Regions from separate parts of the Homo sapiens genome. Here region 2 is linked to region 1. The links come from fine-mapping of genetic effects on gene expression. Tissue or cell type: whole blood. Region 1 holds a variant in brackets; the other region holds the start of a gene. All regions are shown on one strand. Distances are from middle to middle.

Region 1 (9,950 bases):
ATAAGGGTTATCTACCCCAGCACCTGGACGCATTTAGATTAAGTAAATCTACTGAGGCTCCAGAGGAAGGTCTTCAGGACTCAGACCTTAGTTATAGACTAAGAGAAGTTGCTCACTAATGTCTTTAGCTGCACACTTACATACAAGAATATATAGCTTAGAAGGTATATAAGCTCTGGAAAACTTTGTAATTTTGAGTTGGTCCGGGGATAATTTCCAGGCCTTCTCCCTGTAACCGGCTGCAGGAAATAAAAACGCTCTTCCTCTCCAGTTCATCTGCATCTCATTATTGGGCCCGAGAAATAGCAGCCTGACCCTCAGTTTGGTCTGGGAACAGCTTCAAGCTGATCAAAATCAGGACCCAACACTTTCAGCTGCATCCCGACCAACTATGAAGGGCAGTTTGTTCAGATGTTCAAAGGAAACAGTGTTTTCCTAATGGCAGTATTATGAAAACTTTTGAGGTTGTGAGCAAAGAGACCATGATGTCAGCATCAGAGCCAGAAAGTGGGAGGGTTCAGGAAAATTATAACCTAATTTACAATAAACTTTTAAATTCTTTCAAGAGATATTTCTTATTTTTGACTTAGAAGCTGCCAATGTAATAAATGTACCAGATGCTGTCCCTACAGAATTAAATCATGTAATCCCCATCTCTTCAAAGATAAGGAAACCAGAACACAAAGGTGAGATGAACTGTAGGAAAGATTTGAACCAGTTTGTCTCAACAGCCTGTGCCCTCATCCATGACACTTTACCCTTTTACCATGAGGAAGTGTATTTTATCTGCACATCTAAACAGCACGCACTGGTATTACTGAAGCCCGGGGGTTAGCAGGGTGTATCACATAAATTCCGGGAAATGTGGAATAGAGTGAGCAATACTTTTCCACTCACTACTCCATTACTGCTGCTACAATATTTAGTTGAGAAAATAAAATCGTGCATTTCAAAGCAATCTCTTCCTTGGCACAGATCAAAGGACACAGAACACAAGTGAGTCAAAGCTCGTTCCATCTCCACCCGCTGTTCTCCAAGGGTCCACTAGGACTTTAACCATGGGCCGTTTATAACTCATTTCTTATCCCGACCTGAAGACAAAGGTTATTTACAAGACTGCGTTATTTTCTGGACATGGTAATCAGCTCTCATGATTTAATACTTTCTTGACATCACACTCCACCGACCCTAGCGCTGACTGATATGTCAGCCATTTTAAAGCATTGTAAATGGGACTTAAATAAGCAACGTTTTGGAAGGTGTGCAAACCTAAATAAATATTGCTGAGTAGGGACCATTCCAGCCAACTCTCTCGTCTGTTAAGGTAAAAAGGACTGACAAAAACAATACATTCATCCTATGCACAAACAACAACAACAACAACAAAAAAAACGGCCAATTGGTAGGTTCCAACTTCCTCCCAGCTCTGCCTTTTACTGATGGTAACCAGAACAGGGCCAGCCTCAAACTCCAGGGTCAACTCAAGTGACAACACAGTAACCCCTCATACTCACAGAGCACTCTGTGTTTTTCAGGAAACCAGCATATAAATATAAATGGCTTCCTAGACCCAAGAAACAGCCTACAAGGTAGTTCATGCACTTCAGATAAAGAAACACACATTAAAAATCATACAGCTGAGCCTAATAAATGCTCGGGTTTCCCGGTTCCTAGGTTCCTTTCCATATTAGTCCCTTGTTCCTGGAGTGAAAGTGACGGGAAGCAAAGCAGCCCACAGCCCTAGAAAGGCTGATGGTGCAATCTACTTTCTATGCGTTTGTCTTTTACTCTACTTTCTCCATCTACACGTCCAAGTACCAACGCTTACCCTGTATGTCCGTAAGAGGTCAGTTGAAATCTAGACCCCCTCATTTCCAAACAACACCAGAACACGCGGCCTGACAGGAACGGGTGTATTTGTGGAGACGATGGGACGGAGTACCAAGTCTCAGATCCACCACTTCCTGTAGCAGAAAACAGCAGCCAGCTAGCGTGGACCTGGAAGGCCCAAAGACTGAAGCCTCCGGGGGCTTACAGGTGCCAGCAAAGGCCAAGGGAGGGGGGAGAGGCCGCAGCTCCGCTCCGGCTGGGAGGAGACCAGTCATGCCATCCTCCAAAGTTTACAGCTTCGGGAAAATCCTCTCTATCCAAGTGTCCCCACAGAGTTGTTTTTTTCCCCAAAAAAAGAGAACTAAACACTTGAAGGGCAAACCAAATGAATAATTCAACCAATGTGCTCCCGCGGCTGGACCTGACAGGAAGTCTGCATACATTTACTTAACTGCGGCTCTCTCAGTACAACTCAACTTTGATTCGGCACTCAGATTTGAGAAACCTCGACCCTCCAGAAGCACCAAGCAAAAAAGGTCTCCAAGCACAAACACAGCTGCCCCAAATTCCCGGTCTGCCCAAACTGCACCTCTCAGAGTGGGGCCTCAGTCCTGCTCTCAGAACATTCTGGTGCGTAATAAAGGCACACACTACGAAAGGTCAAACAGCTGGTCTCCATCAACAGCAGCTGAGAAGCAGCAGGTGAGGCCAGGGTGGGCGCGGACCCGAAGACGCGGGTCTGATCGCTGCAGAGAGACAGAGAATACAGAGAGAGGGGAGGCAGCAACAGGAGACCCCGCACTGGGGCCCGGAAGCCCTCTACTCCCAAGTGGCCCCCAAGGATGGTGCTGAACTATGGTAGGACGCAGGACACCCCTCGACTGCAAGAGAGGAGCTGCCAGCCGCCCCGAGGGTGAAGCCTGCAGATGCGGTGCCGGTCATCAATGGCTTCTATTGAACGGATCACCGCCAGAAGCTGCCATCCACGACTCAGTATCCGGCAGACTCGGTCACCCACACGCATAAACCACATGCTATACAAAAGAAACTTGATTTTACTTCTGGGTCTTTTTTGATCCTAGGCTTCATAAGAACAGCACACAATGTAAATTGGCAAGTGTGAGTATCCTGGCTCTAATTTGGAGTCATGTTAGTGGACCTCAGGTTTAAAAATAGCTATGAAGAGGCTTCTAGTAAAAGCCATTAAATGAAAGGTGCATTTACGTTAGGCTGCTGTGGCCCACGCTGAAGTTAATAAAGGAAGGAGAGTGAGAAGAAAAGTCCATCTGCAATAAAACTAGGAACTACTCTCACCTGAACCCACAGATGACAAAGACTACCTGCCGGGCACAATGACCTCTGCCCCAGGCTGAGGCGACAACTGAGAACACAGCAGGACCTTAGGCCAGCACAGGGGCAGGAGGCTCTGAAACTGAGGTGGCAGGTACGTTCCCGTGGCCCAACTGCAGACACAGAAGTCCCCAGCAGGCCTGGCCCACGAGGGCATCTCCACTTCCCTAACCAGGAAGGTTTCCTGGAAGAGAGGCCAGCTTTGCACTGTGGGCCCCAGGCAACTGGGCCCTGACCCTGCATCTGGGAAGCAAGGGCCCTACTGGGAGTGGCGCAGCCCCCCTGGAGTATCTCATCCCGCCGGGTAGAGCAGGCAGAGGCACAGCCAGCCGGCAGAAGGCAGGGCAGGCCGGAGAGGAGAGGACAGAGCCGCCCGCCCCAGGAGGCAATGCTCCCCACCCTCCAAGCCGACCTGAGGCCAGGGTACATGGCAGGTCCCCTCCTAAGCCAAAGAATCCACACCGAGGCATGCGGAGACGCCTCTACAAGGAAAGACAGTGGTGAAAAAGAAAACAAGCAAAAGGAAAATATTTCCGAATTCCCAAGGGAGAGGGGAAACATTTCAGAAAAATACTCTCAACTCTCAAAGAAATTACAGACAATTCGGAGCACCTTTTAAGTCTCCAAAAAGCATTAACACAGCTAGAGATGAAGGTAATAAAAATCATTATCAAAATAAACATCACATTAAAAGCAGCAAAAAGTAGAAAACAATGACAAAAAAGCATATCATCTGAAGAATGGAAGCGCTAAAAAGATGGAAAAGTGATCAGAAAAGATGTTCCATACCTGAAAATGAAAATAAGCAAAAGGCAAAAACCCCACTTCCAGTTAGTTTATCCTAGGGAAATAGACAAGTGAAAAGATTCATATGTCCAAAGTTTTCCAAAAATGTTTTTAAAGCTGCAAACTACCTAGGTAGACATCAATGTAAAATTAATGACAGGAATTGGTGCCCTTTTGGTTGAGGGACAGGCGTACTCCTGCACACATTCAAAGAAAACATGTGGAATGAGGTACACTGAGATGTTAACAGTATGTTCTCTCTGTTTTTCTGCACTGTCCCAGTTGTTAGCAATGAGCCTATTTCACACAGGCATATTTCGGGAAAAGCAGGGCAACATCTCAATTTTTAACGTACACACGTGCAGATCAAAAAGTGCCAGACTAGGCCGGGCGCAGTGGCTCATGCCTGTAATCCCGGCACTTTGGGAGGCCGAGGCGGGTGGATCACGAGGTCAGGAGATCCAGATCACGGTGAAACCCCGTCTCCACTAAAAATACAAAAAATTAGCCAGGCTTGGTGGCGGGCGCCTGTAGTTCCAGCTACTCGGGAGGCTGAGGCAGGAGAATGGCGTGAACCCGGGAGGCAGAGCTTGCAGTGAGCCGAGATTACGCCACTGCACTCCAGCCTGGGTGACAGAGCAAAACTCCATCTCAAAAAAAAAAAAAAAAAAAGTGCCAGACTTGGCTTCAGGAAGAAGATTTTAAGTTTATTCCTGGCTGCTCAGTCAGTGATTAGACAACTCAAATCCATTACCCTAAATCAATATGGATAATAATAAAGAAGCTAAAAGCGGCAAATGTCTTTCTATATTAGATGAAACATCCTGAATTATATTACACCAAACACTGTAATTACTGCATGACTTTTAAACAATTCTTTCCATAGGGAAAACCGACAAAATGAAAATACAAAAAAAGAGAAATCATTCAAGAAAAAAATGTTACCTTAAAACTCTTCTTCTGAAGCTAAAAAAAACATGAAAGTTTAAAGAAATTGGGAGATCACAGGAATTGCTTAAGATCTGAATATAATTCAACACCAGTCTTAAAGTCCTTGTCATTCTGGGTTTCACTGATGAAGGCTAAGAGTACAGGATTAACTTCTGATACATGAAATTGTTCAGTTTAAAAGACAATGCACAGATGACCGCTGCGGCAAAGGCTGGGCAGGGTGCTGGGGTCCACCTGATGCCTAGTGCCACCCCCACTGTCCCCCAACCCCTGTTCACAAGAGACAGCTGTGAAAGGGCCACT[A/G]GCACACAGCATGGCACCTTATCCCAAAGGCAGTGCTATCCCAGATGATCTGGTGAGCAGTTCAGGCAGATCTCAAATGGCCTGGTCCATCTGAGAAAGCCCTTACTTTCAAAAGCCTTCTATCTACCAACTCTTACAAAAACACACACGAGTAAATCACTTTAAAAGCCTTTTTTATAATTTTGCTTTAAAAAAAAAATGAAATCCCCAGACCTGTCAAAAGCTGAATCTATGCCAGAAGGAGACCAGATTTTGCCAAGAATATGGTGAACAGGGACTTCCTTCAGTCCCCTGGCCACAAGTGGCCTCACTCACCACCAGATGGGCTGCGTGTCCTTCCACCTGGTCTCGCAGTCAACCAACCCAGAGATAAGCAGGCCAGCTTATCCTCCAAACATCGCCCACAACAGGCCTGAGCTTCAACCCTACAAACGCAGGTGGGGCAGCCCCTATCACGGAAAGTCAAATTCCCATTTTCAGTTTCCAATGAGATGTCAAGAACCAAGCAACAGGCTCAGGAAGAGCCAAGAAAATTGACTTTCTCAACTAAAAAAAGGCCAGAACACATGAACTCCTTGTGTTTGTCATGTGGACTCCAGTTACTCACACCTGAATCTCTGAGGCCCTGAACATCTGTGTTCCCCCTTCCTTCCATATCTAATTGTTGTTTTTTTTTGTTTGTTTGTTTGTTTTTGAGATGGAGTTTCACTCTTGTTGCCCAGGATGGAGTGCAATGGCACCATCTCGGCTCACCGCAACCTCCGCTTCCCAGGTTCAAGCAATTCTCCTGCCTCAGCCTCCCGAGTAGCTGGGATTACAGGCATGTGCCACCACACTCAGCTAATTTTTTTGTATTTTTAGTAGAGACAGGGTTTCACCATGTTAGCCAGGATGGTCTCGATCTCCTGACCTCGTGATCCACCCGCCTCGGCCTCCCAAAGTGCTGGGATTACAGGCGTGAGCCACCGCGCCCAGCTATCTAATTGTTTTAAGGGGTAACTTTTATGTTAAAATTTATATTAAAATTGTGGCCAGGCCCAGTGGCTCACACCTGTCAACCTAAGCACTTTGGGAGGCCAAGGTGGGAGAATCGTTTGAGGCCAGGAGTTAGAGACCAGTCTGGGAAACATAATGAGACCCCATCTCCACCAAAAATTTAAACAATGAGCCGGGCACGGTGGCACACGCCTATAGTCCCAGCTACTCGGGAGGCTGTGGCGTGAGGACTGCTTGAGCCCACCAGTTCGAGGCTATAGTTAGCCATTACCACATCGCTGCACTCCAGCCTAAGCGACAGAATGAGACCCTATTTCTTTAAAACAAAATTAATGACCAACTATGATAAAAAGTCAATAGGTTGTTTGCAGTCAGCTGGTTTTCCAGTATTTGTACTGAGACACCTCTTGTCCAGGATTCCTGTAATGACACGCCATGGGCTGGGGAGGCAAGATTAAGAGTAAAATCAATAGCTGTGAAATGGTTTTCTCTGCAAGGCTCCCAGTTGTATTCAGCCATCAATTTAGTAAACTTCGCCTTATTACCAACTCTTTGTGACCAAAGGAGCAAACTGAGAAAATACATGATGTGCAAGCACCTTTCCTATACTTCAATATCACAGCCTCATTCACCTTCTCATCTCCAGTAAACTGATCCCACACTGTAGTTCTTATCCACACAGAGCAAACTACTGCTAAACCCTCATGGTAGATGAGGCTATTTATGCAGCTGGGCCACCAAGCCCTCCCCTCTCTCCCTTAAGAACTCAGAGAGACTCTAACTTCCCGCTCCAGCAGCAAATCTACTGGAGGAGCTGACACCACATGAAGAGAAGAACGTGGAGTCTACGGCCAGGTGCATGTGGCTTCAAATCCACCTCCACCTCTTACAAGTTATTTGCCTCTCTAGGCCTTAGTTTACTCACCTGTAAAAAATACAGAAAAATGCATACATATTATAGTTCCTGGGGCTAAAAATAAGATGTTTTCTTATTCTCCTGGGGCTAAAATAAGACAATTTTTTATTTTCCTGGGGCAAAAACAAAGTTTTTTTTAAAACTGGACATAGTAAGTGCTCCCCTGTTCCCATTATGGTGTGACCTGCAGCCTCAGCTGTGTTGTCCTTTCTAAGCCACAACTGCCAATGCTACATAAAGAAGCAGCTGAATCACAAGTGACAGGCACACCCAGTAAATTCCAACTAAAGGCTGAGATAGGAAAATAAATCATCAAGTGACAAGAAACTGTCTCATCTCAAGGGTTTACCCTCAAATCACACAGCTGATGATGCGTACACTTCACTATTATTCTCCCTCGTGTCACATCTTTCTACATGAAAATAGAACAAATGGCTGGGCACGGTGGCTCACACCTGTAATCCCAGCACTGTGGGAGGCTGAGGTGGGTGGATTACCTGAGGTCAGGAGTTCGAGACCACCCTGGCCAACATGGCGAAACTTTGTCTCTACTAAAATTACAAAAATTAGCCAGGCATGGTGGCAGGCACCTGTAATCCCAGCTACTCGGGAGGCTGAGGCAGGAGAATCACTTGAACTTGAGAGGTGGAGGTTGCAGTGACCCAAGATCATACCACTGCACTCCAGCCCAGGCGACAGAGTGAGACTCTGTCTCAAAAAAAAAAAAAAAAAAAAAAAAATAGAGTAAATGACTAGATCTACCATATGACCTTCAATACACATGTGGCTCTCCCAAGGTATGCCCTTTAGTAATAACAAATAGAGAAGACCCCGATCAGTGCCCCGGGGTAGGACAATGGTCATGAGGCCTCCTGCAATTAGGCTGTTGCTAATACAAGCCCCAATGGAGACACTATCCTGAGACCATGTAGATAACACATGCTGTGAAACACAATTTCAGTGAAGAGAATTTTTTTCTTCTGACCATCTGAAACATATGCAGCTAACCACCAACAATGCTTGTGCAACTTCCTCCATTAGCCTAAATACTTCTGTCTTAGTCAGCTCAGACTGTGCAACTTTTATAAACAACATCGATTCATTGCTTACAGTTCTGGAGGTTGGGAAGTCCAAGGTCAAGGCACTGGCAGATTCGGTGTGTACTGAGTGCCATTCCTCATGGATGGCACCTCCTAGCTCTGTCCTCACATAGCAGAAGGGACAAAGAAGCTCCCTCGGACCTCTTTTGTGAGGGCACTGATATGGTTGGAGGTCCCCTTCAAACTGCATGATGAAATGCAATCCCCAGTGTTGGAGGTGGGGCCTGCTGGGAGGTGTTTGGATCATGGGGGTGGATCCCTCGCGGCTTGGTGCTGTCCTCATAATAGTGAGTTCCAGCAAGATCTGGTTGTTTAAAAGTGTGTGGCACCTTCCATCTCTCTCCACTGCTCCCACTCTCGCCATGTGACTGCCTGTTCCCACTTCACCTTCGGCCATGAGTCAAAGCTCCCTGAGGCCTCCCCAGCAGCCAAAGAGAAGCCTGTACCATGCTTCCTGTACAGCCTGCAGAACCATAAGCCAACTAAACCTCTTTCCTTTATAAATTGCTTTATAGCAACAGAAGAACAGCCTGAGACAGGCACTAATTCCATTCATGAAGGCAGAACCCTCATCAGCTAATCACCTAATCACCTCCTAAAGGCCCCACCTCGAAACACAATTGCACTAAGATTCACAACATGACTGTGGAGAGCCATAAGCATTCAGACCACAGTAGCTACCTATTTCCTTGCCTCCTGACTATGCCTGGTGTAACCTCACAGTTAGGTGGTCTCACATCTCTTCAATGATCTTGACTTTTCCACAAGAATCTCACTTCCACAGGTGGGTCGTCTGCAGCATACTACTAGCTCATTAATACACTTTATTTATAGTGGCTAGGGTTGTAACACTGCAGGCTTCCCTTTGATGACTCAATTCAATACTCCACAAAGATTTTCATCCTAGTTCATGAAACGTCATTAACACTGTTAGTCATTTACAACTGAGGGAATTCTCTAGAAGCAGTAAAAGCTTTCTTGTTTCTTCTTTTTCATTTTACATAGGAACAGGCCAAGCACAGTGGCTCATGCCCATAATCCCAGCACTTTGGGAGGTCAAGGGGGGAAGATCGCGTGAGCCCAGGAGTTTGAGACCAGCCTGAGCAACATAGGGGGAACCTGTCCCTACAAAAAATAGTTGGGCATGGTGGTGCACACCTGTAGTCCCTGCTACTTCGAAGGTGAGGCAGGAGGATCGCCTGCGCCTGGGAGGTAGAGGCTACAGTGAGCCATGATCACACCACTGCACTCCAGCCTGGGTGAGGAAGCGAGACCCTCTCTCCAAAAACAACAACAACAAAAAGGAATGGCCTCTTTCTTGTAGTTTTGTCTTCTCTCTCTAAAGACAAACCATCAGTATTTATCACTCAAGTCCAGTTGTCCTTTCTAATACTTATACTGGTGGTCCCATGAAAGCTCAGGGACACAGCATCCTTTTCCCAGCAGGGTAGAAGCCTAAAGCTCTGGGCTCAAAGGTAAAAAAATACTCATTTGCATGTAATTTTGCATAAACTCTCTTGTTTAGTTCCAGATGCCCAATTCTAAGTATGCAAAATAAAATGAAATCATTTATACAGCTTACTGCTTCCAGTGTTTTCAATTCAATGCTTTAACAATAAAAGCAAAAAGAAAACCTTCTGAATCAATTTCTGAATTAAGTTCCTTAATCAACTTCTGAATTAAGTTGAAGATTAAGTTCAACTTAAAAAAAAAAATAC
Region 2 (9,950 bases), 32 kb after region 1:
ATAATTCAGTATTTTTCAAACTGTGGGTCAGGAATCAGTGGGCTGTGAAATCAATCTAGTGTTGCAACCAGCTCCTTTTTTAAATATACCACAACAGCACATCACAAGCACAGGCTGAGCATCCCTGATCCAAAATGCTCCAAAATATGAAACTTTTCAGCGCCAACATGACACTCAAAGGAAATGCTCATTGGGAGCACTTCTGATTTCGGATGTTCAACAAGCATATAATGCAAATATTCCAAAATTCGAAACACTTGTGGTCCCAAGCATTTTGGATGAGGGATACTCAACCCGTAGTAAGGATTAGTACGGTCTCCTGAAACTTGTTTTTGATCCTGATGTAAAATATATTTCTTACATGGGTCACGGTTCAGAAAAGTTGAAAAGTGACTGATAAAATTTTGTAACAGAAATGTGCAAACCAAAATCTCATTTTTAAATCACATTTCTGCAAACTCAAAGCCGATTGGTGTTCCTGCCTCCATCTGAAGCTTTTCTTTTAATCTCAATTGAGTGAAACAACAAATGCTCAATGAAAGACGGAGTACTTATAGCCACAGATCAGCCTGATTTCTTTATGTTTATTCGTCACTATATTCATTCAGTTTCTGATGTCTATTTTTTTCCCCTACTGAAATATAAAACTGGGGTTTAAGAGAAAAAAAGCAAAGGCTTCAGCAACTTTCATTAAACATTTACTTTAAATGGTAACCTCATTCAGATCTACCACTTTCAACCCCTCCCCTAGGACCTGGCACATGAAAGTTCAATAAGGGTTGCTGATTGAATAAATTAAAAAATCAGCCTCCTATTTCTAATTTCTTTAGCCAATCTAACTAGCAATGAGATAAACTTTAATGTTTGCAAAAGTAACCATAAAACAGTAACACTGCATGATGAGTGGGAGTAGGAGGAGTAGTAGTTTCCAATCACAAATTTGCCACATAATATATGATCTCACCTTGGTCAGTTAAGTCTTCCTTGGTCTCCACATCTACAAAATGGTATAATATCATCTACATCTCAAACGGTACCGGTAAGAATCAAGAGGCATAAAAATGATTTGCAAAACATTGAAAAATGGTGTTTATACTAACATGGTTGTTATTTTTCAAGCATCCTTGCCTAGGCCACCTGAATTCACTCTGCTTTATTTTTTTATTTTATTTTTTTTTTTGAGACGGAGTCTGCCTCTGTCGCCCAGGCTGGGGTGCAACGGCACAATCTCAGCTCAACGCAACCTCCGCCTCCCGGGTTCAAGTGATTCTCCTGCCTCAGCCTCCCGAGTAGCTGGGATTACAGGCGTGTGCCACCACGCCCAGCTAATTTTTTGGATTTTTAGTAGAAACAGGGTTTCACCATGTTAGCCAGGATGGTCTCGATCTCCTGACCTCATGATCCGCCCACTTCGGCCTCTCAAACTGCTGAGATTACAGACTCTGCTGTCTTTCTAAGCCAACTCCTTATAAGCCCTGGTCAGGAGACAAGAAAAAGGGAGGGCTATGAGGCCTATCAGAGCAAGCCATAGAAGAGATACGGACTTCTCTCCTCCCATTTAGCAGACAACAGTCGAAAGCAGGTGTGTTTTTAATTGAATCTTCAGCAACAACTCTTAGGGAAGCCTCCCAGGGCAGTAGCAACTGCTAATTTGAAGTAGAAAATAAATGTGCTGTTGTTTTTCTTTTGTGGGGTGGGGGAGGAGAAAAGAATGTTCTTCCCCAAATGATACACTGTTACCATACAGTCTGTAGATGTACTTAGGTACAGGAATGACTGGCAGAAGCCAACTTACCTACCTCTAAAACTGTAAAACTGTAACAGCTGAAAATCTGATCATCTTTTCCACTGAGAAACACTTAAGATCTTTCATACTGAGAAAACAAAATAAAAACAGTTCCCATGTAACACAACCTAACAGATACATAATAGTTGAGAGGCAAAGTTATTAAGGAAATGTATCTTCTTTTCCCAAGGTTTAAGAATTCTGACCCACTCAAAAAAAAAAGTGAGGATAAAAATGAAAAGGTGAGATACTAGATATCACCTGGTAACCATCTGATACTGACTTCACGGCACCAGCCAAAGGGGCTTTAGTACCTTTTCAAACTGATTCGCTATCCACAAAGGCCAATTAACCTAGTAAGTGAGGCATTTGTGCTAGATTCCAACCTGATGAACACGGTATAAATATCAACCTAAAGGAAATATTGATAAAACTTTTTTTTTAAATCATTACAAGAGTCCTTTCTTGCTCGACTAGTAAGAAATTACTTTTTTCACCCAGTTCACTCTGACCTACACACCTCTAAATTCATACCAAAGCGGCTTTAGAAAATACCAAGAAACCACATCTGATTGTTACCCAGCAGTCAGCAGAAGTTTAGGTTTTGAATGCATGCTAAATTCAACGCTCCTTAAATGAGAGTCGACAAAAGAATATTCTTCAAGCATCTTCCCAGTCACTCTTAAGATAATAACTTAACTGTTGCTGCTTAAATGTATATTTATTTACTGCTTAAACATATATACACACATATATATACTGCTTATATATACACACACACACACACACACACATATACACACACACACACTTGGACTAAAATTCTAGCTGCCATTAAAGTGGTAACTTTGAGTTCCTATTTTTCCAGAATTCAAACCTGAACAGTGAAATCCAGTTTTCTTTTTACGGTTTCAAAAAAAGAAGGGAGAGGGATGATCTCACTGGAAGAGGCGAGCAGACCCCAGAGGCAGTCCCAGGTCTGGGCTCTGTGCTTCTCAGCCCTCAAGACACAGGGAAGGAGCCTGTTGGTACCTGTAAATCAACCAGTAATCTACTTGGATGCTTTTGGTTTTCTTCAAACACTTAACGTTCACTCAGCTAAACTGGCAGAGCAAACTTTCATGACATATCCTAACTGCATCCTAAGATTTCCATCCTAAGCATTTTGCCACCATTTCTGCGCCTACAAAGTTTACAAGAGTTAGCCAAGGACGGTAGCTTTGTTTTTCAAAGGGCTAAAAGCAACGACAACGAAAACAACAACAACAAAAAACCTTTAACTTATACATGTAAATTTGAAATTCAACTCCTCTCCCACTCCCCAAAAAGTCACTGGTAGGCCAAGGTGTCACCAAGTACCGAAAGAGAGGTTTACTGGGCGAAGAATTCCTGTAAATGCAACCAAGTCTCAAAGTGAAAGTCCAGGGTCCCGGGGCCGGGCCCGGGACCCTGGTGCGCGGCTGTCCGAGGGATTCCTCCTTCCAGAAGGTTTGCAACTCGCACTTTCCCCCGGTCCGCAGGTGCACGGGGGCTCCGGGCAAAGCCACTGCAAGTGGAACTCGCGGTTACCTTCCTCCACTCCACCCTGCCTACTCCGCTCGGGCCCGGACGAGTCCAGGCGCGCTCCCCGTCCCCGCCCTGCCCAGGTCTCCCGCCCGCCTGCCCGGGGGTGGGGGACGAGCCTGGGGGACGCGTCCTGGGGCCCTCCGCCAACCCGGCCACCACGCAGGGCCCCGGGACCCGGCGGGGGCCTCCAAGGGCATCACTCCACCTCACTTCTCCCGGGGACAGGGCCACCCAGGGCCTGCAGCTCCGGAAGAGTGTTGGGGCGAGGGGAGCGCGGAGGACTAGGCGCCCGCACCCCCACATCCGGACCCAGGCCGCGGTTCCTACGGCTCCTGCACGCACACGCCGGAGACCTCGGCCGCCGGAGCCGGCAGGGACGCCCAGGGACTCGGACTCGGACCCCCGGCCGAGCCGGGCGCGCGGGGAGCCAGGCTCCGGCGCGACCCCGGCCGGCTGAGCGTAGGGGGACGCCGTGTGGATACCGCCAAGTTGCTGCTTCCGCCCCGGTCGCGCATCCCGGCCCCGCGGCCCGCGCCCGCCTACCTGCATGCCGGGCAGGCCCGACTGCACCGGGGAGTGAGCCATGGCGCTCAGGACGGCCACTTCCTGGGACGGGACGGCCGGGCCGCGACGATCCGCGCGGGGCGGCGAGGCCCGCGGGCCGCGCGCAGCCCTCGGGCGGCGGGGCCGGCCGGAGCCCGAGGCCACCCCAGCCCTGGCGGGTCCCGGCCGGGCGGCGGGGGCTCAGCGGCGGGTGGCGGGCCGCGTCTCCATGCACGGCGCCAGGGAGGAGCTGCTGGGGGCGCAGGGCCTCGCGCGCACTGCCGCCGCCGCCGCTGCTGCCGCTACTGCTGGGCTGGAGCCGGGCGGCCTGGGCCCGCGCGCGCTGGCCGCTGGAGCCGGAGTGGGCGCGCACAGCCCGCCGAGCCCGCGAGCGCCGAGCGCGTCCCGCCCCGGCCCGGCCCCCGCGCCCGCCCCCACGGCCCGGCCGGGGACCCCGCCCCGCGCTTCCGGGAGGGGGAGGGGAGAGGCCGGTGGCCGCGCGGGAGCCCTAGGCCGCAGCCGCCGCCTGTCGGCCCGGCCCGGGTCCCAGCTGCTCCTGCGGCGCTCCCACGCCCCCGCGGGCGGGCGGCGGGGCCGGGAGGGGGCCTCGGCTGGGGCGGGCGCCGGGAGGGACCGAGTCGGGGCCGGAGGCTGGCCGCGTGCCCACCGGGCCGGCGCCGGGGCGAGCCTGGGCCGCGGCCCCCTCTTCCCGCCAGCCAGCCCACCCCGCCCCGGCGGCCTCTGGGAAAACGCGTCCCGGGCGAGCCCCTGAGGGCAGGATCGGAGTCGGGGGCACCTGGGGAAGGAGAGCGCCCCGTGGGGCCTCGGCCGGTGGCCTGTGCCAAAAGGCCGGGCAGAGCTGCTTCGGTGTCTGGGTGAAGTTTCCAGCCAACCCAAGAAGGAAACCGAAAGGGAAGAGGCCGAGAGAGAGGTTAATTCCTAGTGCTTTGGTTACCGAAAACAGCCCGGCTGGGACTGCTGGGCTGGGAACTTAGCTAAGCAGTGCGGAGGCTGAACCCCACCATCTCTGGGATCCGCAGCAAATCAGAAGCCCCCACCCACGATAAGGGGAAAATGGGGCGCAGAGGGCAGGGAGGAAGGGAAGAGAATGGAAGGAAAGCGCGTCTGGACTTTGAACTGCAGCCCTCTCCCTCTTTCCCTTGCCTCGGAAGCTCCAGGCCCACTCAGCACCAGTTCTGTCTCCTCTTTTCAGCCGCCTTCTCTCTAGCTACTGAGGGGAAAAGTCAGGATGAAGCGGGTCCCTCGGCCTCCAGAAGGTGTTTTATTACAGTCGCAAACAGGTAGAGCGGCAGCCACCCCAGTGATGACTCCCTGCTCCTTAGATTGTAGGGACGCTGGCACCTCACTCATGCTCCTAAGTGGCCATTTTGCGCCCTGGCTGGGCGAGTTAGGCAGACAAAATGAGCCCCCAAAAGTTTAAAGGCCTCCACCAAAGGAGTATTTCTTTTCTGAGGTGTCATTGTATTCCATCCACGAACTTCAGTTCCCCCGGGTGCTCTGGATCTGACATGGAGTAGGATGCTAACATCTAATCCCTTCTTTCCCTTTGGAAAGATGCATGTTTTTTCTCGGAGTCCTAGGGAATACCTTAGAATACTTTCATGGTTGTCATTGGTACACCCATCCCTTGAGGAGCCCTGCCACCCGTAAGTAGGACTGCAAGGAAATACAAAATTAAGAGAAGTATGAACCCTGATACCCAGGAACTTAAAATCAGGTGTATAAATTTTGTACACCTAAAAAATATGGTACCTAAAGAGGCGAACAGCAAAACAAGCAAGAATGTGAATCTTTAAAATGTTTCTATTCTTCAGCGCAGCCCAGGAATTCTACCTAAAGTAACATATCCTAAGGCAACAACCAAGAAGTGTGGAAGAATGCATGTAAGAAGACACAGTGATGTTTAGAATCCTGGGGAAACGGAACAGCCAAAAAGTCTCACAGAGGTTAAGTAAATAATAGCATTTTCATACGAGTACTATGTAGTCATTTAAAATTATGTCTTTCAGTACCTAGTAATGGGGAAAATGTATTCATTATATATTATTAAAGAAAATACAGGGTACAAAACACTGTATATAGACTGATCTCAAATGACTATATATATATTAATATATATGGCCTACAGACACACAGTCATGTATTGCTTAACAATGGGTATACATTCTGAGAAATGTGTTCTTAGTTGATTTTGTCACGTGAGCATCATAGAGTGTACTTCCAGAAACCTAGATGGCATAGCCTACTACACACCTAGGCTATATGGTATGACGTATTGCACCTGGACCACAAACCTGAACAGCATGTGACTGAACTCAATACTGGAGGCAACTATAACACAATGGTAAATATTTGTGGATCTAAACATGTCTAAGCATAGAAAAGGGACAGTAAAAATATTCTTCTAGGGTCAGCAGAGCCAGGGCAATAACCTGGCACCAAGATAAAGAGCAAGAAACTAGATGAATGGATGGAAATGTCTGGATGCTGATCTGAGACATTACCATGGTAAATGCTCAGAAATCACTTTGCAGTGGGCTAATTGCCAGCAAATAAGTCACAGCAGATGGGGGACAAAGGCCCATAGTACCCTGGGTATAAAAAAATAACCGGAATCCTAGTTTGTGTCCTGAGGCTAGTGAGGCTCAAAACAGGGAGATTCCGGCAGGATGTAACTTCTCTGGACACAGTGACTTGCATCCATTAGCTGGTCTGTTGCCCCGAACCCTGTTTATCTTCTCTCCACACTGACCATTGTTTCATCCTTTGACAATGTTCATACTGTTGAGCACCATTCTTATCGAAAGAAGGGAAGGAAGCAACATGGGAGTTACTGGTTCTCCTTGGCCCTATGCAGGTAGTACCGAGTATTCCCCATGGCAGAAGTAGGTCTCCACCTTATTTGTTTTTGCACAACAGAGATGATGCACAGGGCCTGAGCCCGGGATCAGATCCGGTGCAATTGCCTATTATGTTCATTCATTCACACCTTTTTTGAATACCAACTATTAATACATGTCAGATACCCAGTTCAGTACTGGGCATATAAACATTAGATCCTCAGGTGCCTCTTAACCCATCCTAGGGACCTGGTCTCCCAGAATCCTAACTTTGGATGAATACAATACCATAATTGATTAAACTTAGAGTGGCAATAGCTATCATTTCCACCAAGGAAAGAAAAGGATCATCCTCTCACCCTCTTCCTCTTGTCACTTTCCCTCCACCCCCAATGTATGATTACAACAGGTTATACACTACCGTAAGTCCAGAAGGAGATTATGAGAGTCTCCATAGAGATGATGCATTTTATGGTCTCCATGGAGATACTAACCCATTGAGTTATTTACTTTATCCATTGAATTATTTTTCTTCCCTGGTCCTCTTTGTCTTTTGTGTTCACTTAAGGACATCAGTCTGGCAATGAATTATGATCTGAAATATATTCTGGACCACAAAGAATATTTCCATACCCCTATATGGAGCCCCTCCAAATATAAAGCCCCTATGTATTTGCTGCCCCTAAGCTAGTTTGTACGCACTCTCAGCAGAGCTCAGAGAGGAACAGAAAACAAGAATTCCACAATCAATCCCTTCACTTTTCTTTCTAAGTTGAAAAGATAAACACCCCCAAATGCTGCTTTATAAAGAACAGCTAGACAAGTAGAGCATTAGCAATTTAAATTCAGAGATTAAAGAAAGGGACTTACATGGTGAACTTTAAAGGGAGAAATAGGAGTAGCTTGGATAAGTAACTAACAGAAGGCTTAGACAAATTTCTACACATGTTCAGTAGGTGAAGACAAATTATCAAGATCAGTTTAAAGAAGAATGTCTAGTCATTGTTGGATGACACAATAGCAAGAAAAGGTATGCCAAAGCCCCAGAAAAATATCCCAGCTACATTGAGGAATGGTACCAATAAGGTTTCATTCTGTGCGTGGAGAGCTCAGAGGGCAGGCTCTTGCAGGGATATCACCCTAAGTAGGTTTTCAGTTGCACCCTGCCTTAGTTTGCTAGGGCTGCCGTAACAAAGAACCACCAACTGGATGGCCAAAACGACAGAAATTTATTTCCTCACCATTCTGGAGGCTGGAAGTCCAAGATGAAGGTGTCAGCAAGATTGGTTTCTTCCGAGGCCTCTCTCGGGCTTGTAGCGGCCAGCTTCTCCCTCTGTGTTCTCGTGGTCTTCACTGTGTGTTCCTGTGTCCTAATTTCCTGTTTTTATTATTTATTTATTTATTTATTTATTTATTTATTTATTTATTTTGAGATGGAGTCTCGCTCTGTTGCCCAGGTTGGAGTGCAGTGGTGAGATCTCGGCTCCCTGCAACCGCTGTCTCCCAGGTTCAAGCATTTTTCTTGCCTCAGCCTCCCTGGTAGCTGGGACTACAGGCGAGCGCCACCACACCCGGCTAATTTTTGTATTTTTAGTAGAGACGGGGTTTCACCATGTTGGCCAGGCTGGTCTCGAACTCCTGGCCTCAAGTGATCTGCCCACTTTGGCCTCCCAGAGTGTGTGAGGCACCACGCCTGGCCCTAATTCTTTGTTTTTAGAAAGATACCGGAGTCGTACTGGATTAAGGCTCATCCCAATTACTTCATTTTTGCTTAGTTACCTTATTAAAGTTCCTATCTCCAAATACAGCCACATTCTAAGGTACTAGGAATTAGGACTTCAGCATAGGAATTTTGGAGGGACACAAGTCAGCCCGTAACACACCTCCTTTTCTGCAAATGTGTGTCTGGTCAGCCCCCCTTTAGCTGGGTCTTCCAGGCTCAGCTTCAGGAATGAGAGCTTCCTTCTCCCTTGCCAAGGCCTGTGGACCTTTCTGCGCACTTCACATTGCACACTTCTGCTAATAAGCATTGCTTCATATTTCCTTGGGTGTAGGCCTTAAACTTTATCTTGCATAGAAACCAGAACACTAGTCTCCAATCACTGTACAACTGAGAGCAGAAACAGAGAATGCATAGGTGTTTGCTTGATAAAATATTCCTGATTAAAAGAAATCATCTGGAACACGTGACAAAAATCTGCCAGAAAAGGGTTCAGAATATTTTGCAGGCCTATCCATACTCAGTTCAGGCAAAAGATTTAAACAAGATCCATCTTTCTCCCCCACTGCCTCCTCCCCTGTGTTGGGAGGTGCAATTTACCAGGGGAGTTGGGGGTTGAGCCTCCAAGGGGGCTCTTTGTTGCACATGCTCTCTGCTGCAGTTCTGGGGGCTCACACCAGGGAACATCAGGCTGTTTAGAAGGACTCACTTGAACGAGCTCACTAGAAAAATTCTCATGTGCAATTTTGCTTGGCAAAGAACCAATGAACAGGGCTTGTCACCCTCTAAACAGTGGCCACTTGACCCTGCCAATCTGCTCATAAAGACTTCAGTATGCAAAGATTCATCAAGAGCTGTGTGTGTAGATTTCCCTTCCTCTTGAAGCTGGATTTGCTTTCAGACATACCCAGAAAGGGCATACATGAAATCATCCCCAGAAGGATGATGTCATCCAGCCTACAGTCACACAACTGCAGCACTAGTTTTTAAAAGCTCTTGGCCCTGTTTTCTGACAAGGAAGACAAATTGTAAGAAATCATTTTAATTTTCACTTCAACCAGATCCAGGGGATTATGTGCTTGAAGATCATTGTACAAGCACACAAAGGTAAAATGTGCCTATGAGTTGCAGATACTCATTCCACAATGCACAAAACTTAAGTCAGCTTAAAATCATCACAAAAATGTTGACCTATACACTACCCTATCATCAAAGCTTCACCTGCAAAAAGGGCAAGCATGTTGTCTTTTACCTTAATTTTCCTGCCATTTTTTAAATTTGGTTTCCCAAAGAAGCTACGTTGGAGATACTGTTAGTCAGAAGTCTTTGAATAACAAATGACAAATACTTAGCTCAGACCTCCATAAGCAAAAAAGGGACATTTTAGTTCAGCAACAAAAATCAACACTTGGCTAAATCAGGCTTGGATCAATCCAAGAAGATGAGTTCAATGATAAAATCAACTCTGTCTTCC

What was found. PIP is the estimated chance that this variant, and not a neighbour inherited with it, causes the effect.
Region 2: it holds the start of STK24, and the variant in region 1 is fine-mapped to the expression of STK24 in whole blood (INTERVAL, PIP 0.92).

The regions. Positions count from the first base shown.
Region 1 is chr13:98,541,015-98,550,964 of GRCh38, forward strand. The region is part of intron 1 of STK24 (serine/threonine kinase 24); the gene reads right to left. Among named protein-coding and RNA genes, the nearest start is that of STK24, 31 kb to the right of the region's middle. The variant A/G (reference allele first, on the strand shown) is at 5,221.
Region 2 is chr13:98,572,850-98,582,799 of GRCh38, forward strand. It overlaps STK24 (serine/threonine kinase 24), which reads right to left and starts at 4,258. Exons shown (of 11, transcript NM_001032296.4): 1 at 3,896-4,258. The coding sequence starts at 3,937. STK24-AS1 (STK24 antisense RNA 1) reads left to right here and starts at 4,406. Exons shown (of 1, transcript NR_046542.1): 1 at 4,406-5,992. RefSeq lists silencers at 1,768-1,827, 3,292-4,161, 4,212-4,521, 4,542-4,691 and an enhancer at 4,782-4,971.